Regions from separate parts of the Homo sapiens genome. Here all the other regions are linked to region 4. Evidence: fine-mapped expression QTL. A gene starts in region 4. Each other region holds a variant in brackets. All regions are shown on one strand. Distances are from middle to middle.

Region 1 (8,107 bases), 61 kb after region 4:
TGTACACCTCCATCAGAGCTTTTGGGTGACTAGGCGCATTGTCAATGAGTAGTAATAGTTTGAAATAAATCTTTTTTTCCTGAGCAGTAGATCTCAACAGTGGGCTTAATACCTTCAGTAAACCATGCTATAAACAGATGTGCTATCATCCAGGCTTTGTTGTCCCATTTATAGAGCACAGGCAGAGTAGATTTAGCATAATTCTTACGGACCCTAGAATTTTTGAAATCATAAATGAGCATTGACTTCAACTTAAAGACACCAGCTGCGTTAGCTCCTAACAAGAAAGTCAGGCTGTCTTTTGAAGGCTTTGAAGGCAGGCATTGACTCTCCTCTATAGCTTTAAAAGTCCTAGATGGCATCTTCCAAAAGAAGGCTGTTTCATCTACATTGAAAATCTGCTGTTTAGTGTAGCAACCTTCATCAATTATCTTAGCTAGATCTTCTGGATAGCTTGCTGCAGCTTCTACAACAGCACTGGTTGCTTTATCTTGCCCTTTTATGTTATGAAGATGGCTTCTTCTCTAAACCCAGGAACCAACGTCTGCTAGCTTTAAGCTTTTCTTCTGCAGCTTCCTCACAATTTTAAGACTTCATAGAGTGGAAGATACTTACAGCCTTGCTCTGAATTAAGCTTTGATTTATGGGAATGGTGTTGCTGGTTTGATCTATCCAGACCACTAAAACTTTCTTCATATCAGCAATAAGGCTGTTTGCTTTCTTATCATTTGTGTGTTCACTTGAACAGCACTTTAAATTTCCTTCAAGAACTTTTCCTTTGCATTCACATCTTGGCTAACTGTTGGACACAAGAGGCATATATTTGGGCTTACCTTGGCGTTTGACGTTCCTTTCTCACTAAGCTTAATCATTTCTATGTTTTGACTTCAAGTGGGAGATGCGCAACTCTTCTTTTCACTTCAACACTTATAGGCTTTTGTAGGGTTATTAACTGGTCTAATTTCAATATTGTTATGTCTCAGGGAATAGGGAGGCCTGAGGAGAGGGAGACGAGATTGGGGAACAGCCGGTCAGTGAAGCAGTCAGAACACATGTAATATTTGTCAATTAGGTTTGCCATCTTATATGGACATAGGTCAGTAATTACAATAGTAGTATCAAAGATCGCTGAACACAGCTTGCCATAACAGCTATGATAATAATGAAAAAGTTGGAAATATTGTGAGAATTACCAAAATGTGACACAGAGACATAATGGGAGCACATACTGTTGGGAAAATGACACTGAGAGACTTGCTGCATGCAAGGTTGCCGCAAACCTTCAATTATAAAAAACACAACCTCTGCAAAGCACAGTAAAGTGAAGTGCAGTAAGACAAGGTCTGCCTGTAGTTATGTGGATCTGTTTCTGGGCTCTATTCTGTTCCATTGATCTATTTGTTTATTCTTTCACCAATACCACTTGGTGAAAGAGTGATTTTACTGTCTTGATGACTGTAGCTTATTAATAACACTAGAATTTGCATCATGACAGTCCTCTGACTTTGTTCTTTTCCTTCAATGTTTTGTTTTATTTTTAAATTTAATTTAATTTACTTTTTTTGAGACAAAGTGTCACTCTGTTGCCCAAGCTGGAGTGCAGTGGTGCAATCTTGGCTCACTGCAACCTCCACCTCCCAGGTTCAAGCGTTTCTCCTGCCTCAGCCTCCCGAGTAGCTGGAACTACTGGCACGCACCACCATGCCCGGCTAATTTTTGTATTTTTAGTACAGACAGGGTTTCACCATGTTGGCCAGGATGGTCTTGAACTCCTGACCTCGTGATCTGCCTGCCTTGGCCTCCCTAAGTGCTAGGATTACAGGCGTGAGCCACTGAGCTCAGCCCTTCTCCTTCAATATTTCAATATTGAGTTGGTTATTCTGGATCTTTATTCTCTCCACGTAAACTTTAGAATCAGTTTGTTGACATCCACAAAATAACTTGCTGAGACTTTAATTGGAATTGCATTGAATTTATAGATCAATCTGGGGAGAACTAACATCTTGACAGTATAAAACATTCCTATCCAAGGACTTGAAATATCTCTTCATTTATATAGTTCTTTTTAAATTTCTTTCATCAGAGTTTTGTAGTTCTCATTTAGATTTTGTATGTGTTTTGTTCGATTTATACCTAAGTATTTTATTTTGGCAGGTGCTAATGTAATGGTTTTGTGTTTTTAATTTCACATGTTATTTGTTTGTTGCTGCTATATAGGAATATGTTTGACTTTTGTATATAAACCTTATGTCCTGCAACCTTGCTTTAATAACTTATTTATTCCAGGGTGTTTTTTTGTTGATTTTTTTAGATTTTCTACATCAACAATTATGTGATCTGTGAACAGAGACAGTTTTATTTCTTCCTTCCCAATCAGTATAGCTTTTAGTTTTCTATTCTTTTCTTGTCTTATTGCATTCACTAGGACTTCCGGCCAACACAATGTTGAAAAGAAGTGGTGGGAGGGGACAGCCTTGCCTTATTCCTGATTTTATTTAGAAAGCTTCTAGTTCCTCATCATTAAATATGATATTAGCTGTAGGTTTTTTGTTGATTTTCTTTATCAAGTTGAGGAAGCTTTCCTCTATTACTAGTTTATTTAGAATGTTGATCATGAATGCATATAATTTTGTTAAATGCTGTTTCTGTATCTGTTGATATGATTATGTGATTTTTCTTCTTTAGCCTTTAATGTGCTGGATTACATTAACTGATTTGTAAATGTTGAGCCAGCCTTGCACATCTGGGATAAATCCCACTTGTTAATGGTGTATATTCTTTTCATGTTGTTGGATTTGATTTGTTAATATTTTGTTGAGGATTTTTGCATCTATGTTCATGAGAGTATTGGTCTGTAGTTTTAAAAAAGTTTAGGAATCTGCAATAAGGCATGATTATGTTTATTTTGATCTTTACTATTCAGTAGCTCTTAGTTTGTGAGAAATCCTAAACTTCCCAGTCCTGTCAAAATTGGTCACTTATATATGCCTATAAAATATTGGTTAAAAATGATTTCATATAGCCAACTTTTTGTAAAATATTCATTCCCTTGTCTCTGAGAGTTTATTTGCTCTTGAAAGAAAATTGTGTTTCACCCAATTTCCCTGAAAAATATCTGTGATGTCATCTTTATTCTTTCAGAGATCAATATTTCCCTGAGAGTTTGTTGGGATAAATCAACACTGCATTTTAGCTGAGGTGACAGCTGGTCCTATCGATTAGAGCAGGGCTTTTGGAAGCTTTTGAGTGTAGTACGTGTTTGACTTAAGGATTATGGCTATAAGGAGGTCATAGATTACAGCAAAGAAGTCTTTTGAGGGTAAATGTGAGTATACAGTGTCTTCACTAGGATAATCTGTGTTCCTTGTGGAATGCAGTTTTCTATTTGATTCTCAACAGCACTCAATTCTTTTCCCCAGCAAAATCCCTGAATTTTGATTTCTGGCCACAAGGTGGCATCTGATTTTCATTAATACGGGAGCCACACCCCTTCATCTCTCACTTCTCAAGCTGGAAACTTCCATCTGTCTCAACTTCTGGACTCTTATTGTAACAGATTTTTGTCCCCATGGCAGCATTTGTAAAGGAAATTACATTAACTTGTGTTTGTCTAGGGGCCTAGAACTAAACCTTCCTGTATTTAGTTGAGTCATGTTTGTGTTAAGGCATCCTCCTACGTTTTTAATGTTTTTAATTGATCATTGTGTAGAAAACTTATCATAGCTTTTCCCATGTATTTCTATGGCTGAGAGTGGGGTCATGCACTTTTTTAACATATGCTTATCCTATGCTGCATGTTGTTTTGCTTGCAAGTAGGAAGGTGCAAAGAAGCCCTCTTCAAAGACCTAGCTTTTAGGTGGGGTAGACGCAAAGTGCATGCATAAAAT[A/T]GCCGTAAAGGAAAAACTCACAGGCACGTTGTCTAAGTCTCAGACCAGTAGTACGAGTAAGGTCTCTAGATCTGTGAGAAAAGGCATTAAGAGAGATAGGTTCACCATTGCACAGCACTTGAACAGCACTGGCACAGCACTGGCACATACTAGATACTAAATATATATATATATATATATATATATATATATATATATATATATATATATATATATATATATATATGTTGGCCAGGCACAGTGGCTTATATCTGTAATCCCAGCACTTTGGAAGACTGAGGCAGGAGGGTGGCTTGAAGCCAGAAGTTTGAGACCAGCCTGGACAATATAGTGAGACCCTGTCTCTACAAAAATAAAAAATATAATCAGCCAGGCATGGTGACGCATGCCTGTAGTCCTAGCTACTCAGGAGGCTGAGGTGAGAGGATTGCCTGAGCCCAGGAGGTTGAGGCTACAGTGAGCTATGATTGTGCCACTGCATTCCAGCCTGAGTGACAGAGCGAGACCCTGTCTCTAAAACAAAAATTAAAAACAAACAAACAAAAACCTACGGAATGAGTGTATGAAGAGGCCTAAGAAGCATTGCATGGAAGAATGGGGTGAAACTAACTTGAAAATGATGAGTGTGAGTTGGACGGAGGAAGTCAAGGAGGAGGCGTTGCCACGTGGAGAGACAGGGTGCAGGAGGCGCAGGAGCAGTGTGAGGGGCCAGAGTGTAAGAGGAGGAGAGTGGTCTGGCCTGCACTGGGATAGCCAGGTCTCCACCTGGGCAGGGCCCTGAGGTCATGCTGAGGTGCCTGTAGTTTCCCCAGAGGAAGTTGAGAACAATTCTTATGGATTTTTTAAAAAGTGTGAGTCTAAAATTCAGCTGAAAAAAAAAAAAGTGAAGCACAAAGCCCTGTGGTCAGTGGGGGACCCTGAAAAACACACAAAGCACCTACATAAATAATAACCTGGGCAGCATGGGACATGTGTCCTTAGGTGGTGTAAAACTTGAGCTGGATTTTTCAGAGAAGGAAGCAAGATCCTGTCCAGCTGGCACAGCAGGGATTGCTGCAGGGCAAGTATCTGGGACCCAAATCTGCTGTAATAATAGCTGACATTTGAATGTCGGTTTACAGTTTGCAAAGTCTTTTCAAACATTACCGTATGTGATGCTCACATTATCCCTGTGGTGTCAGCACAGTTACCGTCCCTGCTTTACACATCGGGACGTTGAGGCTCAGACAGGTTAAATGACTTGACTTCCCCAGAGTCAGTCTGGTCATTTGGGTCTGACCTTGCTTCTTGAAGGACTGGCAAGATGGGGGCCAGCAAAGGATCTAATGGAAAAAGGTGTGATTTCTCTCACTTTTCTTCTGAATTAAAGATGGTGATAGACACAGTTGCTGCTACTATGAATGAAGGCACAGCTTTTCCTGTATTATTTCCTTATATGATTTTGCCATATAATGCTATGGTTTTGCCATATAATGCTATGGTTTTATTCCTCAGTGAGAACATAGGGGAAAGGGACTGATAAAATGTCATCAATTGAAAACAACCAAGAGCAAACTATCTCAAGGTTTTAGCCAAAATGATGTCAGTCTACAGTTGAAGCCATCTGCCTGGTTTTCTTTCTCCTTTTATGATCTTTGCATTCCAGGAGCTTATGATCTTGTTGCCAAGAGGAAGCATGTGTGTGCTCACTGCAGCAGATCTTGGGGTGACTTGTGGTGCATCAAACTGATTCCCATGGATTCGCAGCCTCAGGGCTTTCTCTGAAGCCCAAGGAGGTGTGTCACACCAAAGAGGTGACATACACCATTGTGTGAGTTGTGACCTGAAAGCACAAGAAAAGGGGCAAGATAAAGCCTCCAAAGGCAACCCTAACAATGAAGGCAAGACCATGGCCATATGGTCCAGCCACCTGTCTTCAGTTAGGACAATTCCCAGGCACATTCTATGTGGTTCCTCAGAGGATTCCAATGTGGTTGAGGCCCAGTTGCTCACGATGTAGACCATTAATAATGCATCCTTGGTTGGTTCCTTCTTCCCTGTCTCACGTCGTATACTCTTCTGCTTTCTGGCATCGTCTTCCAAATAAACAGCCTGCACTAAAGTCCTTGACCCATGTCCTTGACTCAGGCTCTGATATTTGGGGAACTCAAACTAGAAACACATGCATATTTGCTCACTTGTGTTTCTAGAAAAGCTTGCTCTACAAGAGATGCATGCACCAAGTCTTCTATGATCTCAGTGGAGTGGGGCATTCCAAGGTACTGGGGTGGATGGAGTAGGCTTTGTGCAGGAGGAGAGACTTGCCCAGTTGTCAAGTGCAGCCATACTGGCTTTGAGTGGGATATACCAAGGGGGGGCCATTCTAGGAAAGATGGATGGACTGTTGTGAACAAAAGCTAGGGGCTTTGGAAAGAGCTGAGAGAATGAAGAGGCTTGCTGGCCATAGTAGGTATTAGACTAGGGGACAGGGAGATAGGTTTTAGACTGGGAGTGGTGGGCTAGCCTTGGTGATGTTAGATCTTGACAGCCCAGGTGTCTTTCTTTGCTTGCAATTTATTACAGGTGGTGGCTTTGCTTCCATTTTGAGCTATACTGTGGAATAGCTTAGTATGTGGAAAAGGAATGTACTATTCCTTTTCCATAGCAAGCATTTCCCCAGTGAATTGTTAAGCCCAGATTTACTAGTTGAAGCATCTGATTTTTCCCTTCTTGCCCCTCATCCTGGGCTTGGAGCCTCCTTCCCTCTCAGTCTCTCCCCAGCCTCAGCTTCCTCCAGAACTATTCATTGTGCTTTAGCCCATTCAACTCTCACAGCTTCTTCACCTTGACAATTTGGGGCTTTAAGAAAAGATTTGGCAAAGTGCCTTTTCCACGTACCAGCATCTGTGCTTGCCCCTTTGATGTTTTGTTAAGGTAAGTGCTTGAGTGTTGGCAATAGCTCTCGGTATATTCTAGGTGTCTGGTGATCCAATGGTACCACTCAGGGATTGAGTTTTTGAAGGGACCAGGAGATCTGCTGGCTCACAAGAGTGTCACTGCCTGGTAATTTTTCCTTGCTCTCCTAGAAGGCTGACTGCCAAATCAACTCTCGCATCAAATCCAATCCATTGGTTCATGTACCTGCTGTGATCTTGGGAAGCCTAGTGCAGTAGTGGTCCCTGTCACAGTTTATAAACTCCTTTGTTTGGCAGGAGACCCTAGCGACCTACTCCTCCCCATATCACTCAGCAATACTTTTGGCTAATAACCCTGTATAATTGCATAATATTTCTAGATTGCAAAGCACTTACCTAGACATTGACTTGCTGTCTCATCTCTGTAATTGCATAATATTTCTAGATTGCAAAGCACTTACCTAGACATTGACTTGCTGTCTCATCTCTGTAATAATCCTGTGAGGTAAGCAGGACAACTATTGTTTCCATTTCATGAATAAAGAGACTGAGATGTTTGGTGACTTGCCCAAGATCACATAACTGGCTAGCATCAGAGGGATCTGGAAACCAGGACCCATTTACTATTAGACCACACTGCTAAGGGAGACAGCAAGAAGCATAAGATTCAGTCTTTGCTTGGAGGATCCCAGAGTGCTGTTTGAGAGAGATCAGATCAGCAGGAATGAAAAGGAGACATTGGGTTCCAAGTGCCAAGTGAATTCTACAGACGGCATGCGATCTAGGTATAAAGAGGAGAGATTGCTCATGATAGGCAAGGCTAAGAAGGAACACAGAAAGTAGTTAAAAAAAAAGCAAAATAAACAGCACTTACATGGGAGTACCTTTTACAGCTTGAATAAGGGCCATTTTGGGCAATAAGATACAGATGTAAAAAGAATGAGTATCTCCTAAATGATACAAACAAATCTAAGAATGGCAGAACATTAAATAATCATTGAAGTTGGCCAATATTTATCTAACTTTAAATGCCAGGAAAGATAGCCATGACTTTCTGCTGTGCCTGCAGGAGTCATGACTAAGCTGAAGATGGTGCAATTCAGAGCCATGAGACCTGGGTTCAAAAGCCCACTTTCTAGAGAAGGGACATTGGGCAAGTTGCTGAGAACCTTTGTGGTTATTTTCCCTGTTTGGAACATGAGGATACTAATTTTCAAGCTCAAAAAGTGGTTGTGAATATGGAATGACTAATACAAGTGAAACTGACTGATGGTGTTAGAACTCTGGGTTCCTCTTCTCTTCAAATATTTTGGGCCATGGGTGGTA
Region 2 (8,107 bases), 48 kb after region 4:
GCTTCTCACTGCATGTGACAAGAGCCAGGCCTATCTGCTAGGGCCCTGCGGCTGAGGTCTGACCTGGACCCTCATGCCCGAGTCGGAAGACCCCTCTCCAGAAGCCATTCTGCATCCTTGTCTGCTCTGCGTCACCCGAGAACACAGGCTTCGCAGCCTCGCTTTCTGAAATGGTGTGTGCCGAGTCAGATTGCCGCTCAGAGAAAATACAAGCCCGTTTTCCCTAGCTGTGCCATTTGGTGCTCTGCCAGGCTGCCGTGCAAGGGAATACCGACGAGACGAGCTGCACTGTCTCTGATTTGGAGCCCTCACCGGAGCTTGTCTTTAAAAATGAGCAGGAAGCTCATGTATGTTTGCATTTCAGTGAGCCGGGTCCTGACCTGCCGCCACCCATCACGGTCAGCGTGGTGCATCTTACCGAGGAGGCGCAGGCCTGGATTCTTTTGAGTGGTGCTACTGCCTAGGAAGTAACACGTGGAGAATTTCCATCTTGGGACCATGCACACAGTGCCTTGGGGAGTAGATTTTGCCCTAATAGCGATGAAGAATTTTATCAGTCAGTGGAGTTCCTTTTTCAGATCAGGGATGGGAAAGAGCCAAACTGGGTACCTCCCACGTGTGCCCCGTGAACAGCCCTTTGCAGCTGGGCTGTGGGGCTTGGCTGCTGCCCTGTCCCATCTGGCAGTTAACGCCTTCTCCCTGCTCTGCCCCCCACTCCCCAAAACCAGTTGCAGCCTCAACCCACATGGGGATGTAGAAAGCCGTAAAGTCCACGCTACTGTTGAAAATGTTTACATCTCCGCTCTCAACCTGCCTTGGGTTCGTGTTAAATGGTGTTAAATTCTGCAAATGGAGGGGAAAAAAATCAAATTCTAAATTTCAAAGTAGAATTTAAAGCAAATTTGTAAAAAAATTATCCTACCACCCCTTTTGGTCCACTTAAGATATGCCACGCTGAAGCAAGGTATTTCCTACTGGATTTTGCTTTCACTGGTGTTTAGAAAATAAACTTGATTTCTCTAGGAGCACTCCTTTGGTTAGAGGGATGCAAGAAGGAGAGGTGAAGGTGGCGTGTGGTGGCTCATGCCTGTAATCCCAGCACTTTGGGGAGGCCGAGGCAGGCGGATCACTTGAGGCCAGCAGTTTGAGACCAGCCTGGCCAACATGATGAAACCCCATCTCTACTAAAAATACAAAAAATTAGCTGGGCATGGTGGCAGGCACCTGTAATCCCAGTTACTTGGGAGGCTGAGGCAGGAGAATTGCTTGAACCCAGGAGGTGGAGGTTGCAGTGAGCTGAGATTGTGCCACTGCACTTCAGCCTGGGCGACAGAGTGACTCTGTCAAAAAGGAAAGGCAAAAACCGGACCCTGGAGCTCTGTGGGCCCTGATTGCAGGCCCCTCCCTGTGTGATGAGGGATGAGTCAGCTTGGGGAGCCACTTGGCCAGCCTGCATGCCTGGTCATCAGGAGGTTGAGAAAAGCCTTGAAAGTTGTGAAGCACTGAGCAGATACAAGTGTTTGTTAATTTTGTAGAAATTAACTTTCCCATCTGGCCTTTATCTCCAAAGTTGGTATTGTTGCTCCACGCAGACTGCAGTCCGGTTTCTTATTGTGACTTTGACAATGCAAAGTGCAAAATAGGAAGAGGCCTCCCCACCCCACTATCCCACCCTGGTGACCAATTCAGTGTAACCTTTGCACGTACTCAGTCATTGGTGTCTTTGGAGTGACATCTGCAGCCAGTTAGTGCCACCTGAGTACAGCACTCGTACTTTTACATGATGTGTGTGTGAGTAGCTCTTCTGTCCAAACCATGATTTGAGGTTCAACTACCTGTAGATCAAAGCTTTATTTTAGAACGATAAACTGATTTTTTCCAAATGGGTGAAATCTTCTCCCCATGACTATGTTTTCTTAACTTTGCATTGAATCTATTTACTGGGTTACATTCTATGTGTAGTTTGCTTTCTTCATTTTTTTTTCTTTTAAAATGCTCATGTCTTATTCCAAGCACCTTCCTCCAAAGTCCCCATAAAGCTGCATCTCCAACACATTGTTATGCCAATAAGGTTTTATTTAACTTTATTTAAGGATGATTGTGTCTTTGAATGACAAATGTACTGCTGCTTCCTACCTGCAAGACGAACAATGTATGTTTCAAGGGTGAGCAAGTGTTATTTCTTAAATTTCTCAAATGCCTGTAGTAACTATTGTTTCTGCCTCTCAATTGTTGCCAGCTCTTTGAAGAAGGGGAGAATTGTGTGTTTTTGTGTGGGGATGTTTCTGATATGCTGCTACAGTTGCAAAACACTGGAGCTAGAGAAAATAAAGTACTGATCTTCGAAGTGTTGTGGGCTCTGTGGTGGGAATCCTGAAATGAGAAGGGAGTGGATGGCAAGAGGGGACGTCCTTCACGGGGCCTATGCTTGTTCCTCTTGAGCACTAAGGACCAAGGTCTGCAGCTTTGATAGGAACAGCCCCTGCAACCCCATTTCCCCAGGGCAAGCAGATTGATGGTGGTGTTTGCATTGTCTTGCTGGGCAGGAGCGGGAGCCCTCCCACTGGCTTGGCTCACCATGCTGGCGAGGGTGGCACTTTTCTTTCTCATTGTGAGAGCCTGGCTGTGTGTGGCAGGCTACAAGTGGTTCTTTGGAACGTGCTGTGCTCATGCCTGTTTTCTCTGTCTTACACCTCAGCTTAAGCAAGAGAACGTGACCTCTTTTGGAGGTGGGAGGAGGGAAGGTTTGGACCCCTTTGAGAAGCCAGGGATGACTCTGATGCTTCCCACAAGTTTGAAAGTCTGAGCACCCACCTTCAGTATGACCACTGAAGCCCTTGGCCTGCCATGGTCAGGGTCAGAATTGAGGTCAGGCCTGAGACCTGGCCAATGCAGGGGTGCCTGGAGGTGGAAAGGGGTGGTGGTTAGCGGATGGGGAGCGTTGGGATAAACTCCCTGTTTTGTAATTTACCTATGGCCAATGCTGTGCTACTCCAACTTGTGGTTGCTTCCCCTCCTCTGGGGTGGGCGGCACAGCTGGTCTGCTTCCAGTAGATATGGATTCATTCAACAGATATCCCCCCTCTCCCTCCACCATGGAATCAGTCAGCCAACAAATTGGCTGTGCCTCCCATGAGCAGAGCCTCATGCAGGTGCTGGGGACAGAATGAAGTATATGATGTGGTCCCTGTCCTCGAAGGCCTTACAGCCTAGTAGAAGAGTACAAGGGGAGATGCAAACTCCTTAAGACAATCAGATCTTGACCCATCAAGATGGTAGCAAAGTCAGCCATGGAAGCAAAACAGTAGCTTTGTGCCCATTAGACCAAGCTTCATGAGACAGTGGCCTTGTCTGTCCTATTTGCTGCTTTATTCCCAGCCAGTGGTGTGCTGGGGCTGGCCCTGCACCAGCTCTCTAGGTTGTACAGCGCACATTCCTTCCCAGCTTCACATTCCATATTACCATGTTGGTAGCTTGAAATCAGCAACAGTGGGAATATTTACACCACAGAAATCGTCAAGCGCTACTTATCAAGGCCTTTGCTTTTCCAATAGCTGGTTCATCAGCACACCACTGCTGGCACATAGCATAGTGCTTGGTATGTGCTAGGTGTTCAGTGAAGATTTGCTGAGAGGAAAATATGAAAAGTAGAACCCAGTGTCAACCTAGGGGGCCCTTCTGTGGTGCCCCTCTTAGTTTGCCACCTGCCTCCTCATGGAGGCATCTTTCTATCACTCAAGAGCCCTCTCCAGCACGACCACATTCAAATTCCAGCCCTAAAAAGGCCATGAAAGGAAGGTATACCTTTCCTCTAGGGGCAAGGTCTCCTTACTGAGTTGCATGTTTTCTAGTTATCAGCTACCTCTTCCAGGAGAGACCTCTGCTCCTACCCAAGGAGGGGACTTAATGTGACAAACATTTCAGAGAAGAAGTAATGAGCCTAGTCTTGTACAAGAGAAAGACACAGCCAACTGGGCAGATGTGGAGGTGGGTTATGATTGCTTGCAAGGGAACAAAGCATTGCCTCTGGTCTAAGTCTGAATGCAGTGAGTAGCCTAAGAGAAATAAGAGCAATTTGGGAGAAAAGAGCTTGGTTTGCATCCATAAGGGCTTTGTAGGAGACACCCTCATGGTAAGTAAGCTGCACATAAGAGCTTTGACTGCCATTGTAAGAAGTTTGACCTTTAAGCAGTAGGTAATGGGGAGTCTTATGAAGAGTATTTGAGCAGGGGACACCATGATTGGAGCTTGGTTCTAGGGAAACTCATCTGGCTAAAGTGTACAGGACCAAGTGAAGAAGAAATACGGAGGAGGCCAGGAGATGGTCAGTTCCATGTCACAGTGAAATTGTCCAGAAGAGGGATGACTAAGAGAAAGGTGAAGGAGACTGAAACAGAATGAGTGGGACTGGATCGATGAGAGTGTAGAGGTGAAGTCAACAGAGGCCTGGGGGCGCAGGACTCTAGGGCATGCTGAGAACAGGCTGG[G/A]CTGTCTGAGAGGAGTAGGAAGACCTGGCGGTGAGGACTAATACATGGCGGCAGAGAAGATCCCTCATCTCTAAGTCCATGGGTCTCTCCTTAGTCCTCCTCTTCTTTGGGCATGGAAAACTCATCTCAAGTCCATGGGTCTCTCCTTAGTCCTCCTCTTCTTTGGGCATGGAAAACTCATCTCAAGTCCATGGGTTTCTCCTTAGTCCTGCTCCTTCTTGGCATAGATGCCTGATCTCCAAGTCCATGAGTCTGTCTTTAGTCCTCCTCCTCCCTGGGCATAGACTCCACATCTCTAAGTCCATGGGTCCCTCCCTAGTCTTTCTCCTTGAACATGCACAACACTTGAGGGCTCTCTCTTTAGCTCCCCTACTTGACTTCCATTTCCCTGCTTTCTGCTGGCCTCCCACCTCTATGACTACCTTCTCTGGCCCTTCACCAGCTTCAGCTCCTTTCCGGGCCACCTAAGTATGGCTGCTTGGAAAGGTTCTGCCGCTGGGGATCCTGTCTCTCCACACCCCCTTGGTGCTGATCTGCCCTCCTCTGGAAGATGATTCTTAGATATGGGGCTGTAGCACCCCGATTCTTCTCCTGAACTCCAGATTTCAATGTCCAGTGGCCTGCTGGAGATCTCTTGGATCTCAACTTGTCCTCCATTCTTAAGAGACTATCCCCCCTTGCTGCCAGAGGCTTACCGTGTTACTCAGTTGCTTAAGACCTTCAAGGGCTCTTCATTGTTGATTGAATTTAATAGGCTTTCCTGCATATGGCAGTTCCCAGTTTAGCTTCGTGTGTAAGGAAATGACTAGAGAGAAACAGAATAGGTCAGCAGGATGGTTGTGTAAGACCCTGAGGTCTTAATCTTCTTAACAGGGTGGTGCTGTGCTCTTTGCAGAACTTTGTTCCCATTGGAATGTCTTCCTTTCCTGCCACCTCCTCTCTGCTCATTCAAGTCCCCTTTTCAGGCTGCCTTGAAGATAGCATTTACTACCACATTGTGGAGCTCCTCCTAATTTGCCTGTCTATGTGATCTTTCTTTCCTCTTTGTCAGTATCTACAGCCTCTTTGACAGGCCTCCAACCTGCCATGGCTGACCTCACTTTGCATTTTTGCTGCCTTCTGCCCAGAATTATGTGCCCAGTGAGGGCAGAGACTGTGGTTTATTCACTCCTGTTTTCTCCATAGCCCTCCAGCCTACTGTTTCCCGCATTCTGCATAAGAGTGACAGTTATTGTTCGTTGTATGTAACAAACTTCTGATGTCCTGTTAAGCTTGAAACTCCTGTGGGACATCCAGGTGGAGACCCCCAGAAGGAAATGCAATATTGGTGGTCAGGAGAAAGGCTGGAACTGGAACAAAGGACCTGGCATATAGGCCAAGGGATGTGGTGGCCAAAGCCATGGGCAGAGGAGAGTCCCTAGGGAGAAAAACAATCTCGTGGAAGGCTTACATTTAATAGTGAAGAGAGAAATGGGAACCAGGAGAGGCTGGAGTGGTCAGAGAGTTATGAAGTAACCAAGAGGTGAGGCTTTTACAGAGGAGGGGTAGTAATCAGTTCTACAAGCTTAGGAGTGAAATATAAGCAACCAAAGCTATTAAAAAAAAAAAAACAAAAACCTACATTGTCTCTCCCTGCTCTTGTCTTCTTTGTTCCCGGTTTGTTTTTCCCTGCACTTACTCTCTTGCCTTTTTGGATTCCCTTTTAAATGTCACCTTCACCAAGTTCAGCTGCTTCCACACCTCCCCCTCCCCTGACCCCCTGCACCCAGCACCATTCCTACTGTATCTAGCATAATATTTCAGAGGCTACCTAAAGGCAATAATTAGACAAACACTCAAAACTGCACATCCCAGGCTTGTTCATGAAAGTGAAAAGCTGGAAAACAAACGATATCTATCAAGAAATTAAATGGTTTATAGACAATCCTGGCTGTCCTGGTATTTTTGTAGGAAAGAAATTTCTTTAACGGTCCCCAGCAACATACCATAAGATCTTTATTCCCAATACATTTATCAAATTTAGGATACTTCTGAGCTTCCCCATTTCTCTGGCCTTGCCTCCTAAAGGTAATGTTATTTTGGTAAACATGTGACCTCTCTTTTATGAAGCCATGGATATTACACAATTCCAGACTTCCAGGTTCCTGTTGCCATAGCTTCTTTAAGAAGCTCTTCTTTCCTTATGCTCATACTTACCTATGGTAGCTTTGATGTTTCATTTTCCATAGTAAGTGAGACTCTGGGCAGAGCACCCAGCACTACTGCTAAGAGGACACAAGGGCCACTTTAGCAGAGACAGACAGCCCAACCCCTGTCCACTGTCAGCAGAAACTCGTCTGTGACAAAAAGTATAAATCAAAATCATACCAGTGATGTTTTAGTCTTCAACCTGAAGCAGTTGAAGCTTGGGTGTCGCCTTGGAGTCCTGGTGTATTTCTATTGTTGTGAAGTGCTCTCAGTGTTGAATGGGCACCCGACTGCAACCTCATGAAGCCCAGAGCTGCAGAAAGAGGGACTGTGGACATCTGGCTTCTTCATTATTGTCATGCTGCCCCTTGGGGTGGCTGCCTTTAAGGGAAGAGGGAGTTTAAAAAGAACAAAGGGAGATATGTACCAAGGGTGTTTGTCCTCATCAGTATGTGAGTTCGTGGAAGGAGTTCTTGCTGCCTGCTGAACAGTGAAAATATTCTCTTGATGGACACCTTTAGCTTGGATTGACAGGTGATAAATATATATCCCAAGATTTCTACGTTGAGCCTAATGCAAGCAGCTGGTGAAATATACCAGCACATCCTCAATCTTTCCCTGATTGTGTCTGCATAAAGTTTAGAAATAAATAATGTGTGTATTAGTTCATTCTTGCACTGATGCTATAAAGAAATACCTGAGACTGGTAACTTATAAAGAAAGGAGGTTTAATTGGCTCACGGTTCCACAGGCTGTACAGGGAGCATAGCCAGGGAGGCCTCAGGAAAGCTACAATCGTGGCGAAAGGTAAAGGGGAAGCAGGCTTGTCTTACATGGCCAGAGCAGGTGGAAGAAAGAACGAGGTGGGAGGCACTACACACTTTTAATCAACCAGATCTTGTGATAGCTCACTATCATGAGAACAACACCAAAGGGGAAATCTGCCCCTATGATCCAGTCACCTACCACCAGGCCCCACTTCCAACATTGAGGATTACAATTTAACATGATATTTGGGTGGGAACACAAATCCAAACCATATATATATATATATATATATATTTTTTTTTTTTTTTTTTTGAGATGGAGTCTAACTCTGTTGCCCAGGCGGGAGTGCAGTGGCATGATCTCAGCTCACTGCAACCTCCGTCTCCTGGGTTCAAGTGATTCTCCTGCCTCAGCCTCCCAAGTAGATGGGACTACAGGTGTGTGCCACCACGCCTGGCTAACTTTAGTATTTTTAGTAGAGATGGGGTTTCACCATGTTGGTCAGGCTGGTCTCAAACTCCTGACCTCAAATGATCCGCCCGCCTCGGCCTCCCAAAGTGCTGGGATTATAGGTGTGAGCCACCCCGCCCAGTCCCAAACCATATCAATGTGCAAATTTTAATGTAAATAGTTATGGATATTCATAATGTCTTCTGTCTGTAGCT
Region 3 (8,107 bases), 19 kb after region 4:
CCCGAGGAAGGAATATCTCAGTATCTCTATCTAGACCTGAAGGAGATGTGGATGTTACAACTAAACTGTATGATTCTCTGTGTCCCTGAGAACATCACAGCCTATTTCCAAGGTGCCTGGCCATCCCCAGGGTGCCTGCATGCCACTGACACTCTAATCTGGGGTTCTGCTCTGAGCTGAGAAAGTGTCTGTGGTTTGGGGTCATCAGGTGGCAGCTCTTCTCCTCTCTGTTCTGAAATCTTAATTCCCTGTTTGACTGCCTGGTGGCTTTCAGAGAAGCCCAGCCTCCTCCCAGGTGGGAACTTTCACTGTCGAACTAAGGACCCGAGGAGGGTGGAAACAGGAGGAAGGGAGGCTAAGCGGTCACATCAGAGGCATTTCTGCTCATCGTTGGCTCATAATAGGTGGCAGTAGGGGCTGGTGGAGCAGTGGCCAGGTAAGTTGCTAAAAATAAAACATGCTCATGTGACGTGTGCAGGTTTAGGGTTTGCCTGAGTGAGCTTTCCTGGTCCAGGTCACAACTTGTAGGGCAAAGAGAGACTTGAGGATGGTGTAGGCGACAACTGTGCCTTCCAAAGGTCAGAGATGGACCTGGGATCTTGTAGTACCAGGGCCTGCTCTGGAGGCTCAGATTCGTGTGTCACTTCTTGTCTCTTTTGAAAGGTAACTGGAGAGCTGGACACTTTCCTGTCCTCTCTCTTTCCTTGTAGCCTTCCTCTCTCAGAGATGGCCTGCTATCAAATGCCAGGGGCACAGTCAGCTGGGCTTGGTAAAGGGCCTGAGATGAGAGCTTGGGGACTTTCCCACTGGAGTCCATGATAGTCCAGGGTGTAGACAGAAGCTCTTGGATCTCACAGCTTTGGAAACCGAGTCCTGTTTCTCCAACAGGCCAGTGCGGTGACGGGCACAGACCTGCTGTCCTCTCTATTTGTGTGTCCACTGATTCCCTGGCACAGGGGGTCTTTGTTACAAAATCTCTTTGCTGGGTGCTTTGAAGGAGCACGTGTGTGGGCCTTTTTCAGGGTGGTTAGACAATGCCAAGCTGTCACTCAGAAGAAATGGTCAGGATAGAAGCATAGAAAATGCCCTGTGGAAATGTAGATGAGTGTTCTGGCTCACACCTGTAATCCCAGCTACTCAGGAGGCTGAGGCAGGGGGATTGCTGGCGGACAGCAGTTCGAGACCAGCCTTGGCAACGGAGCAAGACCCTAACTCTAAAAATAAAAATAAAAAAATAGGCCGGGCGCGGTGGCTCATGCCTGTAATTCCAGCACTTTGTGAGGCCAAGACGGGTGGATCACGAGGTCAGAAGTTTGAGACCAGCCTGGCCAACATGGTGAAACCCCGTCTCAACTAAAAATACAAAAATTAGCTGGGTGTGGTAGCAGATGCCTATAATCTCAGCTACTTGAGAGGCTGAGGCGGGAGAATCACTTGAACCCGGGAGGCAGAGGTTGCATTGAGCTGAGATCATGCCATTGCACTCCAGGCCGGGCAACAAGAGCAAGACTCTGTCTCAAGAAAAAAAAAAAAATTGGTTTTGTGTGGTGGTGCACACCTGTAGTCCCAGCTACTCAGGAGGCTGAGGTGGGAAGATTGCTTGAGCCCAGGAGTTTGAGGTTGCAGTGAGCCGTGATCATGCTACTGCACTCTAGCCTGGGTGACAGAGCAAGATCCTGTCTCTAAAAATATTAAAATGAATAAATAAAAGAACAGAAAATGACCTGTGTGGGGAGAAGGGTTATCTGTGAAAGGAGTTAGAAACCTCAAGTGTACATAAGTAAGACTGGAGATCTCTCTGTTAATGAAATTGTGCTTAAAAATTTTTTTTTCTTGAACCTTGGCTTCTCAGGCAATAACTGAATTTTAAGGTGTGTGTGTATATATATATATAGGTATATATATATATAGGTGTATATATATATATATATATATAGTGTATATATATATATATATATATATATAGTGTATATATATATAGTGTATGTGTGTGTGTGTGTGTGTATATATATATATATTTGGGCCAGGAAGGGTGAAGTGTTAAATTGCCTTACTTAGAAAATTAAGGTAGATTTGTATTTAGCCCTTAGAGCTTCAAAAATATCAGCTCAGAAATGACTTTTAATTGTGCAGGTGATAAAATCACAAGAAAAAAATTCATCTACAAGTTGGAATGACTCTTAGCTACTTATTTGTTTTTAAATTTTTTTTTCAAATTTTGGAAGGAAGTAGAGAAGGAGTTAGAACTGTAATTTGCTATTATGGGGGTTGGGGTGCAGTGCGTATTAGTACAATGTTAGGTGGTGGCAGGTTCCGTTTATCCTTGGAATTAGCACTGCTCCCCCCACAGGCTTCTGGGAGTTGGGAGCAGGCTGGTTGGTGACGCTTTGCCTGGCCTTGGATAAGAACTCTTGTTTTCAAATTCCCTTGAGGTCTCTTCCAAGAATCTTTTGCATTTTTTCTGATAAATCAATCATAAGGAAGTTTCTGAAATTCTCTTTCAGACCCTACAACCCACAAGTTACTGCAAAGCTGGGCTTCTACCAGAAGTGAGTGATTTGAAATTGAAAACAGATTTCGGATCTCACCTGAGTAGCTCGAGTGTAAGGGAGGGACTGGGAGAGCCACAGAGAACATTTGTCAATCCAGAACCAACCATTCATGGTGTTGCTTGACTGGAGGGCAGGGAAGGAAAGGACTAGAAGCAAGGCGAAAGCAGATCTTTCTGTAGATACACACATATAAGTCTTGGATTTGCATTTTAGGGTGAATTGTAATTAGCTTGAGATGACCAGGGGCCCACCAATCAAGCAACTCTGGGAAAAACACTTGTCTACATCTTAAGTTTCTTTGTCTATAAAATGTCAAGATTGAACTAACACTACATGATTCTCTCGGGAACTCACCAGTTCTAAAATTTCCACTCCTTCTTTTCACAGGGCAGTGTAACTTTAACTCCCTGTTTCAACTTTGGGTGTAAAATACAGGCTCACAAGCACTTTTGCTTTGCAGCGGAAGCTAGGAAGACCCTGCTGTGGAATTTTGCAGAGGGGCTGAGCAGTGGTGGGAAGGACCAGCGGCCCATGTACCATGTTGGGCCCCTGCATTCCAAGGTGTCTGCCTAGAAATAAATGATAGTTTATTTAACATACTTGTAACTTCCAACGACAACACTTCAAGACTGCAAATCATCCATCCGGGCAATTACAGAAATGCTGAACGGCCACAGCCCCGCCCTGGAATCAAGGGAAGAAGTGTGGCAGATGCTTCTGGAAGGCTCTGTTTACAGCTCTCTGACTCCTTCCTGCCAGAACCTTTCACAAGTTCACTACCAGGAAGCTGAGTCATCCAGGGGTCAGCCGGCATGGCCAAGGTCACCCCGCACTGCCAGCAGCACAGATGGGGTTAGCCCATCATTCCAGAGGAGCATCCGTGGGAATGATGGGGTTGGGGAGCTGGGGAGCCTCCCTGCAGCATCTCCCTGCCATGGTGTTTTGCATTTCCTGTAGATTTCGCAGTGAGAAACGGTCTCCTCTTATATTCACTTCATTTCTTCTCTCTTTCTTTCTTTCTTTTTTTTGAGATGGAGTCTGTCTCTGTCACCAGGCTGGACTGCAGTGGCGCGATCTCGGTTCACTGCAACCTCTGCCTCCCGGGTTCAAGCGATTCTCCTGCTTCAGCCTCCTGAGTAGCTGGGACTACAGGCATGTGCCACCACGCCCAGCTAATTTTTTGTATTCTCAGTAGAGATGGGATTTCACCATGTTGGTCAGGATGGTCTCAATCTCCTGACCTTGTGATCCACCCGCCTTGGCCTCCCAAAGTGCTGGGATTACAGGCGTGAGCCACCACGTCCGGGCTTTTTTTTTTTTTTTTTTTAGACTTGTTGCCCCCCCAGGATGGAGTGCAGTGGCGCAATGTCGGCTCACTGTAACCTCCACCTCCTGGGTTCAAGCGATGCTACTGCCTCAGCCTCCCAAGTAGCTGGGATTACAGGCATACACCACCACACCCGGCTGATTTTATAGTTTTAGTAGACACTGGGTTTCTCCATGTTGGTCAGGCTGGTCTCAAATTCCCGACCTCAGGTGATCTGCTCACCTCAGCCTCCTAAAGTGCTGGGATTACAGGCATGAGTCACTGCGCCTGGCCAAAGGCAAGAGATGAGGACCATATAGATGGAAACACAGCATTAAGGGTAAAACACTCTCTCTCTGCTCTGTCTGGTGTTCAGGGCCCAGCATGGGCTGTATGTCCTACACTTCGTTTCAGGCTCATCTTCAGGTGACACCAGCCTTCTCGGAGCCTCTGTCCACATCCCACCTGTCACTACCTCTGCCCTAACTTCACCTTCAGTGGTCACTGCCAGGACCCCTCCCCAAATCTAAATGAGGTCCCCCTGCATTTGCCCTCATTGCACCTTCTACTTTTGCTTCATGGCATTTAGAGTTTGGAATTTTTTATCGATAGGATTTTTAGTACTCTCTCTCTCCTCTACTAGACTATAAACTCCTTGAAGGCAAAGACGACACCTGCTCCCTCAGTTCCAGCAGCCCCTAACACTGCGCTGACATTTAGGTAGTAGCAGCGTTTTCTTGCAGAACGATCCTGTAGTTTTACCAGCTGAGACTTCTGTGGTCTGGGGAGTCACTCATCTCTGGTCCCTGCCTCCTCCTCTCACTTTTGGAAACCCTTCTGGCCAGACGGCTTTGGTTTAAATTGTATGCCGGAGCTCTTGGTTCCAGGGAGAGGGTTTTAGCGTAAAAATCTCACTCATGATGGAAGGTTCCTGCTATTACCTTTTGCATCCAATACAACTTAAATTGACTCCTCCAAAAGCTTCGGAAGTAATTT[G/A]TACCTATTGTCTAGCATAAATTCAGCAAGTGGGTCCCGGAGGCTGAAAGTCGAGTCTTGCGGTTGTTTCCTCTGGTGTTTCTCCCTGAGACCCTTAGAACGGCAAGCCTGGTGCATCTGGTGTCCTGTCATCTTTCTCTGTGATTGTCATCAGTGTGAAAGGTGAAAGGTGTGTGGAGAAAGAACATCCCTTCGAGCTGTGGCTTAGAGCTGTGACTTGGCACCACGTGGTTAGTCACTATCAAGTTAGAAGCCTTTGTGGGAAATCTGGCTTTGGTAGGATCTGGGAAATTTGGACCCCTCATTTGCCCCCTGGCATCTCTAAATTCCAGAGCCCAGCTTTGATGGGGCTTACATCCCCAGCTGTTAACCTGTGGGGTGGGCCCCAGACTGTGGCCAGGTGCATTGCGCTAGGGGAGACAGATCCACAGCAGGCAGAATTTGAGGAGGACTTAAAATACCTGCTTTGGGAGGCCAAGGCGGGCAGATCCCCTGAGGTCGGGAGTTTGAGACCAGCCTGACCAACATGGAGAAACCCTGTCTCTACTAAAAATACAAAATTAGTTGGGTGCGGTGGCACATGCCTGTAATCCCAGCTACTTGGGAGGCTGAGGCAGGAGAATCGCTTGAACCCGGGAGGCGGAGGTTGTGGTGAGCCGAGATCAAGCCACTGCACTCCAGCCTGGGCAACAAGAGCGAAATTCCGTTTCAAAAAAAAAAAAAAAAAAAACACAAAAAAACAAAAACCCGCTTTGTTACCTGCCTGTGGGTGGAATTGAGTTCATCTCTGAATCCGTGGTAGTCATTTATTGAGCACGTGTTTTAGTGAGCATGGCATGGCGCTGGCTCCGAGATCACAGTGCTGCCGCCCTCCTTCACGTTTCTCTGACCTTTCATGGGAGTCACATGCAGACGCATCACTTGGTATAATTATACGTGGAGGAATGAGCAAGAGGAGGCTGGCGACGGGACTGCTTTAAAAATCCCTTCTTCTGTGGATAATAGGCTAATAGCGGGGTGTGCTTTAGAAGGTGTGGCCTCCGCCAAGGGCGTGGGAACTGCATTTGTAGAAGCTGGGAGGACCACACCTGGCTTGGGAGACGGCATGGGTTTCTGAGGTGCCTGGCTCCCTGGCCTGTCCAGTGTGGACAGCTTACGCGCAGCTAGGTGAAATGATTGTGCAGTTGCTGAGGGATTGGGTGGCAGAGCTGGACAGAATTTAGGTCTTCTAACTTGGAACAGGGCTGTGTCCATCTTACCTAGGTGTACAGTTTGGGGAGCACTGCTGTTTGGTCTAGTGAGACACACTTGGTGTAAATATCTGTGCCCTGTAGTACCCAGATTCCAAGGGACCAGAGAGCATGCCCGCACCCACGGGCTGGCGGGAGCCCAGGTCCTCCAGGGCTGCTGTGGAGCATGGGCTTCTTGGTGCCCAGTCCTATAGCTGAACTTGGGCGGCCTCTGGCTGTTGCCCCCAGGGCTGGTCTCCCTATAGTTCAGAGGCGAGCCAGCTCTCAGCAGCAGGGAGGGCCTTTTCCATAGTATGAACTTGGCCACACCAGACCAGTCAGCAGTGTCGGGAATCTTGGCCCTCAAGGTCCCTGCCTAGCCCTGGCCTGGACTTCAGCACTGGTCAAAGGTCCCCAGAGCTGCCCTTGGCTCTGAGCAGGTGAGTGAACTTCCCAGAGCACTTTTGTCTGGGCCTCTGTGCCAGTGTAAACTGATAATAGTGATTTCCCTGCCCCACCTCTCTGCCAGCTATCTAAGTTTTCTTTGTTACATAATCAGGATTAATTTAAGCAGCCTAGGCCATCCATTTAGAAATGGTTAGTGAAGAAAGGTGAATGGGGAGGGGTCAGAGTCCCTTAGGGGGCCACCAGGTGCGAGTCCCCTTGCTCTTTGGGGCCTTGGTTTCCCTTCTGTGAGTTGGGGCAGCTGAAGGGAAGGGCTGCTCAGGTGGTCCTGCCACATCCCAGTGTTGTGTCTAGTGAGTACAGGTGAGAGTGCTCCCAACCAGGGCAGATCCTGCTGCTAGGCAGTGAGTCAGGAAGGAATTGGTAAAAATGACGTCATTGCTAAGAATGACGTCTTTTTTGCTGTTTATCCAAAGGAAAAAAAAAAAAGCAGAAATAAAAGCAGCAGGCAGCTGTCCACCAGACCCCATGCAAAGGGCTTTTCCTTGAATCCTCACAGAGACTTTAGGCAGTAGGTGCCATTAGGAGCCCCACTTACAGATAAGAAAACGGGGGCAGAGAACTGAAGTGAGTCGCCCAAGGACACACATTGAGGAGGAAGCAACAGAGCTAGGATTTAGATACAGAGGGGTCTCCAAGCCTGTCCTTCCAGCTTTGAGGTCCTGGGCCTATATATTCCATCAGAAACTGAAAGGTGTGTTGGGGGGTACCTAGGGTCAGGATGGGGTTTTATTTCTGTCCCTTCCTTGTGATGCTGCAGGGACTGTGACCTGGAGTTCCCAACACCAGTGCCCTGTGGCTGGTAGCCTCCTCCTGGGACTCCAGGATCTATTGTTTGATTTAGCCATTTTCTTCTGTAGTCCGATGGGAGGGATTCAATTCAAACCTGCAATACTGTTCTTTGGGCCATACAGGCCATTTATCAGCAAGTAGAGAAAAACACCCACACCTTCTAGCAAGATTAAGCTAGTTCTGTGGTTCTTAATGATAATTTAAGCCATTTTGATTAACCTAGGTGGTGGTTTTCTCCCTACCAGGTAGGGAATATACTGGAGCCTTTCTAAAAATAGTTCCGGTGAAGATAAACATTTATTGAGTACCTACTGTACTCCACTAGGTGAATACAAGGATTTCTCGTTCATCTCAGGAAGCATGGTTAGGGGATTTTACAGACGAGGGAACTGAAGTTCAGGGAAGTTAAGTTACTTATCCAAGTTCATATAGCTGAAAAATAGAATAGGATTTCGACCTTGTGGTAGGTGGAAACCGGGGTTGTCTTTGTGCTCTCAGGCATGTGGCTGGCGTGGGGTAGAAGCTCTCTATATAATGGTTGAGTGACTGGATGAGCTTCAAAGCTGGTCCCTCTGGCTTTTCCTGCTACCCCAGGCCACGTGCCCAGAAGGAACGCTGTCTTACCTGGGAGGTCTTTATTGACTGTTTGACGCCCTTCCCATCCTATCCCAACCCCTTCCCCATGGCACCTAGTTTCCCCAACCAGAACGTACGTTACTTATGGGCAGAGACGGTCTTTGAGCATTGGGTGGGTGGTTGAACGCAGT
Region 4 (8,107 bases):
ATGGAGCTTGGCTTCCAGTTAGGCCAGGGCTGCATGACGACATCTTCAGAACTACAACGTTCAGGAACTTTACGAAAGACTCCGATAGAAGCAACAAGTCATTCTGAGCTTCCTGGCCTGCCCCATGGGAGAGGACCAAATGAGCTGCCACTCCTCTGCTCCTGGTTGCCATGTTCTTGCCTTTCAAAGAGAGAGCTGCTCCCTTCCTGATGGCAGTGTGGCCCAAGCACTGGGTTATGCTGTCTGGGATGCCACCCTCTCGCAGCATGCCTTCCCTAGAGGTCTGGGAGCTGGACCGGCTGCTGCCTTGTGACATCCGGGATGGCGCCTTCATTACTATGCCCTTTCACTGCTATGCACAAAACCGTGGGGAGGGGTTTAGGCACAGATCCACACTGCCAAACTGGCTTCCCAAGGGACTGGCTACCTCTGCCATGGCCTCAAAGGCAAGGAATCAGAAGGCCACCTACAAAGTCACGGTGCGGGGATCGGGAGGCTGCCACTTATCACTGCTGCACCCCCTCATTCCATAAATACCTCTCAGCATCCATGAATCTGGTGACCAAACACTGCCATGCTGTTGCAGTGGGGAACCCACTGCCCGCCCCAACTGTTCCTGCCTCAAGTGTCTGTGACCTTGCTAGGCAGCAGAAAACACCAAAGAACAGGAAGGGAGCTTCAGCTCATGTTCACTTTCCAGATCTTTCCAATTCATCTATTGCCAGAATATAATTCATGGCTAGACCCTTGGCTGCAAGAAAGTCTGAGAAATGTGGCTTTACATGTTCTGGCCACTGCAGTCCAAGGAGGAGTGCAAGATGCTAAGTGCCAAACCACCATATCTACCATAGGTGGGGAGAAAAAAATATTGAATTCTGTTAAATAATCAATATTCCAAAGATTTTCAACTGTTTCTAACATTTATTTAATGAAATTAAACAAAAATCACGTCTGTGAAGATTATGGGCATATTCACATTTGCTAAGAATTCTCTTAACCATCAAAAGGCAACTTCTTTCCACTGGTATCACCATTGCAAAGTTCAGGGGGTTTCTCATCCATTAGGAGGTGTGTGTGTGTGTGTGTGTGTATATATATATAAAATATATCTTATACATATGTATTATATATAATATAGGTATACATATAATATACATACATATATAACAGGTGTATATATGTACATAGATGTATATATGTATACATAGGTGTATATATCATATATACATAGGTATATATTAAATATGTGTAAAATATATAGACGTGTATATATCTTATATATAAAATATAAAATTTATATAAATTATAAAATATATATAAAATAAAATTTATATAAATTATAAAATATATATAAAATATAAAATATATATAAATATATATAAATATAAAAAATATATAAATATATATAAATATAAAATCTATATAAAATATATAATATAAAATTTATATAAAATATATATAACATAAAATTTATATAAAACATACATAAAATATAAAATTTATATATATAAAATGTACATATTTATACATAAAATGTATATATATTTTATATATACACATGGATATGAATGCTGAGAGGCTAAGTAAAAAAATACATTTATATATACACATATATCTATATATATTTATATACACAAATCAACATATTTTATATATGTACATATGTGTATATTCTATATCCTATCTATATATCTTATACATATGCACATATCTATATTCTATACATATATACTTCTATATATAGATGTGTGTATGTATGTGTAAATATGGTATATATTTCCTAAAAAGAATGGTTTTTTATTTTTAAATTACAGAAATAATAAAAGTATTATTTAAAGTCTGAAAAATAAAGTCAAAGCAGTTGCCTATAAGCCTCCATCACTAGCACAGTAACCATGCGATTCTTTTCCTGAGCACATTTACATCTTTGTGAATGCAATGGTTATAGAATTTCGTTTTGTTTTTTTCACCTAACATTACATTATAATCATCGTCCATGTCGTGTAATGTAAATTCCACTTGTAAAGGCTGCATAATATTTCACTAATATTATGCACACATCATAATTTCCTTAGCCATTCCCTTCTGGTTGACCATTTAGGTTGTTTCCAATGATTTACTGCTCTAAGGAATGCTTTGAAGAAGAGCTTCCTGTGTATTTGGGTTTTTGTTACATTCCCAGAAGTGGGGCAGTGGGTTCTTACAGACTTAATGCTTAAAGGGCATCCACTTAAAAATAAGGATCAACAGCTTCTGATCAGTATTTCTTAAAAACGACCTTTGACAAAAGTAGAGTTTTCTCTAGCCATTACAGAGATGGCTAAGTAAAAACACAGAGCCTGTTTTTACTTATCACATCCTTAGCACTCAGCTTGCCAGCTACTATCTGCAGCTACCAAAACTAGGCAAACAGTGCTCTTGGTCCTGACGCCTCTATTGACCTCTACCCATGCTCACATTACTGTATCTCAAATCCCTAAGAGCTGCTTGGGATGCTGATCACGGTGAGGGCAGAGAGTAGGCTCAGCCTCTTCAGGGTCTTCCCCACCCTTTCATATCTCAGGATCCAGCTTTCCTGACGAGAAGCCTTGTCTAGATAAGGCAGGGAGGCCCTGGTGCCTACAAGTTGATCAGCCCAAGTCATCTTAAGCCCTGGAACACGCAATTTAGACGGACACTTCCAGAGGCAGACAGGTCCCTCCCCTACTTTCTGATTTCTCCCTTTTTCCCCAGACTGGAGCAAAACAATATTAAAACAGCCTGGGTTACACTTTATTGAAGAGGCCAGCTTAGGACGACTTTAAGAACTAGGTGACCACAGTCTTAAGACAGGCAGGGGCAAGGCTGTAAGATTTTACTCTCAGCCAGTTCACACTCCTAACTGTGAGATCAGGCCTCTACAGACCTTATGGGCCTATCAAACCCAAAGAAAATTTCCTGGAGGTGCCTACTCAGAGGGGCTCCCTCCTGGTCACTCCTTATAGCCTTGCTCGGTCCAGGGCAGGGTGGGTTCGGTCTCTCGGTGAGAACAAGAGGAACACATTTAGCTCTGCATTATGTATTTAGGTTGAGAGAAACAATTTCGAATGAATGGGGGTCTCTCCAACAAAGCAGTCTAGAACGGGCCCCTGAGGTTTGAATTCAGGCCTTAGGAATGCCAAAGCTCACTGAGCGATTCTGTTTGCAAACCCACCCGCCACGGGGACGGATTTTCCCCGAGACACTGTCACCCATGCCTCCAGCTCTGGGCATACCCCACTGCGGCCCCTCCCCAATGACCTCCCCTGCCCCTCGCGGACCAGCCCATCCTCAAGATAGTACAACTTTCCGGGCCACCCCACGTCTCCTCTCGCCCCCGTCCGGTTGCTTGGAAATGTGCACGGGACGGTGACGTCACACAGGGAGGCGGGTCCCCACTGTCCCGCACACCAATGGCGCGGCGGCCGCCGGCCTCTTGGTTCCCGGCGATTGGTGTCTCTGGCCGCTGCGCTCCACCCCAGCCCGCCATGGCGTCAGGCGCCGCGGCCCCGGGGAGGTGGCTCCCACTTTAAGAAGTGAAGTTTTGCGCCCCTCCCCCTCCCTGCCCACCTCCTGCAGCCTCCTGCGCCCCGCCGAGCTGGCGGATGGAGCTGCGCAGCGGGAGCGTGGGCAGCCAGGCGGTGGCGCGGAGGATGGATGGGGACAGCCGAGATGGCGGCGGCGGCAAGGACGCCACCGGGTCGGAGGACTACGAGAACCTGCCGACTAGCGCCTCCGTGTCCACCCACATGACAGCAGGAGCGATGGCCGGGATCCTGGAGCACTCGGTCATGTACCCGGTGGACTCGGTGAAGGTGAGGCGCGGGGAGACTTCGGGGACGCAACGAGCGGAGAAGGAGCGCGCGCGCGCATTTGCATCCCGCGCGCCGGCAGCCTCGGGGCAGCGTCCCGAAACCGAGCTCTCCCCAGGACCGCGGCTGGCCGGGGTCGCCCCAGGAGCAGCTGCGCGCAGCCTGGGCGCCGCGCCTTCCGCCGACCCCGCGAGGGTGCCCGGTCCTCGCCCCGCACCGCCCGCTGCTCCAGCCGCGTGCCCGGCCCCGGCTGCTGGCGGCGCTGAGGCGGGGGAGGCGGAGTGGCGAGCACCGCTGGCTTCGGCGGCGACTGGGCTCCCGGGGGACGCGATCGCTGAAGCTCTGCACAGTCTTACCACGCTGGCCGTTCGGGCTGGCTGGGGCCGCCCACACGTGCGCGGTTTCCGAGGGAGCTCCCCGCAGGGGAAGCCCTCACCACGCTGGAGCTGAGAAACGTGTGGCCCTGGCCCGGCCGCGCGCCCTCGGGACTTGGTGTGTGGCTGCTGCTCCCCGGGTTATTTCGGGAACTTGGGGCCGGCAAGTCTTCTCTCGACTAGTGGCAGCTCTTTACCGGTTCGACAGCGGCCCGTGGGATCCCCTTTCTGAGGGTTCCTGCACTTCTTCCCCCGACTTTGGGTCGCCGAGCCGCCGGGAGGCAATGACGTTTGCCTTCTCCTTTTGCTTGCGGGGAGGTGGGTGGGCTTGTGCCTTACAGCCCTTGCTGTGGATTGTGTGAGAGGCACTCAGTTTCCTTTAAACCCTGTCTGTCACTTGCCCCGGTAGTTTTAACTGCATTTCTGTAAAGAGGCAGCGTTACTAGGTGCGTTTTGCCTGGTAGACTGAGACCTGCCCTCTGTCAGCCTGCCCAGAACACCCCAGGGCCAGGATAGAGTAGTGCAGGAAGTAATGCCAGTATTGACTGTTACACGTTGCACTTTTATAGGCATAACTCGCCTAATTCATGCAACAGCCCTGGGGGTTAACAGATGAAGAAACTGAGGCGCAGAGAGGCGAACCGATTACCTTGCCCAGGCTCCTACACCACCTCCTATCCTCTGGCTGCAGCTGCAGTGTGCTTTGGAGGATTCGGAGGCCTCTCTAGGTGGCAATTATTTTGCAAGGCAGGTCCCACAGAGGCACCCCCAGCAGCTTTATCTTGTTGCTGATGCTGGTCCTGCATGAGCAGGTATGAAGGCCAGAAAGTATAACTCAGAGGGTTTTCCCGGCTCCGGGGAGCTCGCTTGGAGCCAGCAGTCAGTGTCTGGACAGGCAGAAGTCCAGTGAGGAAAGACATGGGCTTCCAAGGTGCTGCTGGACCTAAGCCTGAGCCATCACCCATATGTCCCTCCAGTGTCCCAGTGGGGAGTTAGAGGAATGGTTCTCATCTCCAGGAAAGACACTGGACTGATACCAGGTGGCATTTGTATGGGAAAGAATCCCTCAAATGTAATAAAATTCTCCATGATTGAAGCTGTTGTCTCAACTGCCCTGGGCAGAGTCTGGGGAAAGTTAGGAGCAGGGAGGTGTTATCTGAGCAGGCCCTAGTCCTACTGGTGTCTTGAGATGAATGTTCTATTCGGGAACCCCACAGTGAGTTCACTTTAGAGCATCATTTTAGCTTATTTTTAGGATTAGAAATAATTAGTTGTGCCTTCTGAGCACCCTTTGACACTCTCAAGAGGCGTTTCTCACACGTTTAAATTGTGTGATCTGTGTTTAGTTTCTCCCTGCCCCATACATGTTGATATGTTTTGGTTCAGATGTCACCTGTATACTTAGTATTACTTTCCATAGCAGTTTTCACCTGTGGACAGGTTAACATGGTGTGAATGGTAGAAGGAGCCGGTCTGGTTTTCCTAGACAAGTCTGTAAAACAAGGCGTGGGTTAGCTAATCAGTGAAGTCTTCTAGGTTCTGGGATTATAACTGACCCTTAGGGGCCCTTCCATGCTGAAGTGTGCAGGGTTGGTTTTGAGGCTGCCACTGAGTGCCAAGGTCTGCCAACATCAGCACAGTTGTCTGCCAAGCATGAGGAGTCAGGGGTGCATCCTCCATCATGGAAAGGCTTGGGGGAGACCACACCTGTGTTCCTCTTAAGTATTTTGGATGATGGCGAAGACCGGGAGTAACTGAGTCAAGAAACCCGGGTTGGGCTTCAAGCCCTGCTCTCACTTGCTTCATGCCTCGGGCACTGTTCTGTGCCTTAGTTTTGTCACTATAAAGTGGGGACAGTGGACCTGCTCAGTCCCTCTCCACATTTTTAACCCATGCCTCGTTTCTCTGAACACACAACACCCATCGTCCTCTTTTATGTTACTTGAAATATCAAAAGAATTATTACAGCTGAAAACAAATCTATGTAAATCGGATCTTGAAAGAGAGAAAGCTTTCTCCAGTTTTGAAAGGCGCCATTTTTAACTTTGATCTTGTAATGACAAATAAGAATGTTGAATCGGCTGGCTTTTTTCTATCCTAGGTAATGTGGACTGTGGAGCTCTGTGCTGGTCACTTTCAACCCTGAACCTGATGCTACTTATTTTGCAGTTCTAAGTGCAAAGTCGGCCTGGTGGATGCTTCCCATTATAATATTAAATTTGCTTCTTCGTGAGGTCACACCTCACATCCCCAGTGTCACTTTAATAACTAGTGTTTTTTACATGGTGGGCCATGACCCATTAGTGGACTCTGCATTTAAAAATAAATAAATAAATAAAAGAAGTTATTAGTGAGAGTGTAAAAATACGGGTGTGCCTGGCATGCAGTGGGAGAAATGTTGAAATTCTGTTTGGGTTGTGTGTGTGTCTCTGAGTGCATTTTACAGACGTGTACAATGTACTTCTGGCTGGGAGTTGTGGTCAAACAAATATGAAAACCACTGAACCTGAGAAAATATCTCTGGAGCCCCAGCAGGCAACACTGAGATTATGAAATGGGTATTTGGAAGACCTTTGGCAACTTTCCTGCTGCTTCCTGTGTCTTCTTCTTTCCCTTGGTCCTCCCATGGTGGGATGTGAGCACTCATTCATCCATAAAGGGCCAGTCTACTGGGACCTTTGGCTGCCCCTGCGATGACAGTGAGCAGCAAAGTGATACCCAGGGAGGGAGTATAGGGTCTCTGCAGGGCTCTCACCAAATGGTGGCAATGACTTACTCCTGTCTAGGCGGGGTCTGGTGGCAGGTTTTCCATGAGCCTCTTTCTGGTGTTCCAGAGTGGCAAGGGGCACTTGGGGTGGATACAAGAACCCCTGGTCTGATCAGGAGAGCTCAAGACTTGAGGAGCATGCCAGGTGGGTGGAGGAGGAAATTCCAACCAGATTAGGCACACCACTCGGAGACCATGCCGAGTCCCGCCTGGGGAAAGCAGGGGCAGAAGGAAACAGGAAAGATTTGAAGCCGGGGGACTTCCGCTGACCCTTTCACAACCCTTCTTTTGCTTTGCTGTTGGGGGAAACCCTGCCTGTGACTCTCCTAGGATGAGCCCTCCTTCCCAGGTTGGTGCACCACGGAGCGTTCCCTCTAGGAGCCTCCTGGCTGACCTTATGGTGTGCACAGCCAGCCTGCCCAGCTCAGCAGAGCATTACCTCAACTTCTGACTTCTCCTCTTCTGAGTTTTCTCCTGGCTGCAGGCAGACTGGTAGGAAGGGTGCTGGGGGGCAGTGCAGGCAGCTGCCAGAGTCCCCTCCCACCCACTTCATTGCTTTCCAAACAAAGTGCAGTTCGGTCCATGCCATTCAGCTTCAGAAGGGCGTGAAATCCCAAATTGCTCTAGTTCCTGGGACAAAACTATAATGATTTTTCTCTCTCCCTTCTTGTCTCCTCTCCCTCACATCCCCCTGCTCCCTTCTTTTCTCTCCTTTGATGAGAGGTGATTTTCTTAAAAGGCGAATTTGGAACGAGGAATCAAAAAAGGGGTATTTGTGAGCTGCAGTCCTGTTCCTTGTTTCATGAACCCCCAGGCAGCCATGGCCTGTACCCCTCAGGCCTACCCTGAGGAGTGTGAGAACCTCATCCACTTTTCTCTGCCCTAAATTGGGGAGGGGCAGGCTGGAGCGTGGTTTGGAGGCGCGTGCCCAAGAGTACTGTGAACAGCAAAGGGGGCCTCAGCTTTTTAGTAGGGAGAGGTATTTGGGGTTGAATGGGAGGATTTAATCAGCTGCTTTGCTTAAACTATACAGGGGTGTGCACCTGGGGTGGGGGATGTGCGTGTCACCTGGAAGGGAGGAATGTGCTTCCCAAACCTTTTCCTGGCTTCCACTTGGGCACGTTTCAGCTGCATGT

Direction of the effects. Positions count from the first base shown, and alleles are read on the strand shown. Sizes are in standard deviations (SD) of each study's normalised expression. Not every link is listed here.
For the expression in monocytes of the gene that starts at base 3,577 in region 4, A is the high allele of the variant in region 3 and G is the other (large effect, 0.79 SD a copy in Quach 2016).

Evidence for each region.
Region 1: its variant is fine-mapped to the expression of SLC25A37 in whole blood (INTERVAL, PIP 0.95).
Region 2: its variant is fine-mapped to the expression of SLC25A37 in whole blood (INTERVAL, PIP above 0.99).
Region 3: its variant is fine-mapped to the expression of SLC25A37 in monocytes (Quach 2016, PIP 0.95).

The regions. Positions count from the first base shown.
Region 1 is chr8:23,586,264-23,594,370 of GRCh38, forward strand. No RefSeq gene overlaps it. Among named protein-coding and RNA genes, the nearest start is that of SLC25A37, 61 kb to the left of the region's middle. The variant A/T (reference allele first, on the strand shown) is at 3,888.
Region 2 is chr8:23,573,117-23,581,223 of GRCh38, forward strand. SLC25A37 (solute carrier family 25 member 37) reads left to right here. Exons shown (of 4, transcript NM_016612.4): 4 at 1-2,347. Among named protein-coding and RNA genes, the nearest start is that of SLC25A37, 48 kb to the left of the region's middle. The variant G/A (reference allele first, on the strand shown) is at 4,488.
Region 3 is chr8:23,544,618-23,552,724 of GRCh38, forward strand. All of the region lies in intron 1 of SLC25A37 (solute carrier family 25 member 37), which reads left to right. Among named protein-coding and RNA genes, the nearest start is that of SLC25A37, 20 kb to the left of the region's middle. RefSeq lists an enhancer at 5,727-6,228. The variant G/A (reference allele first, on the strand shown) is at 4,855.
Region 4 is chr8:23,525,380-23,533,486 of GRCh38, forward strand. It overlaps SLC25A37 (solute carrier family 25 member 37), which reads left to right and starts at 3,577. Exons shown (of 4, transcript NM_016612.4): 1 at 3,577-3,833. The coding sequence starts at 3,624. RefSeq lists enhancers at 3,271-3,320, 4,611-4,680 and silencers at 3,451-3,810, 3,861-4,110.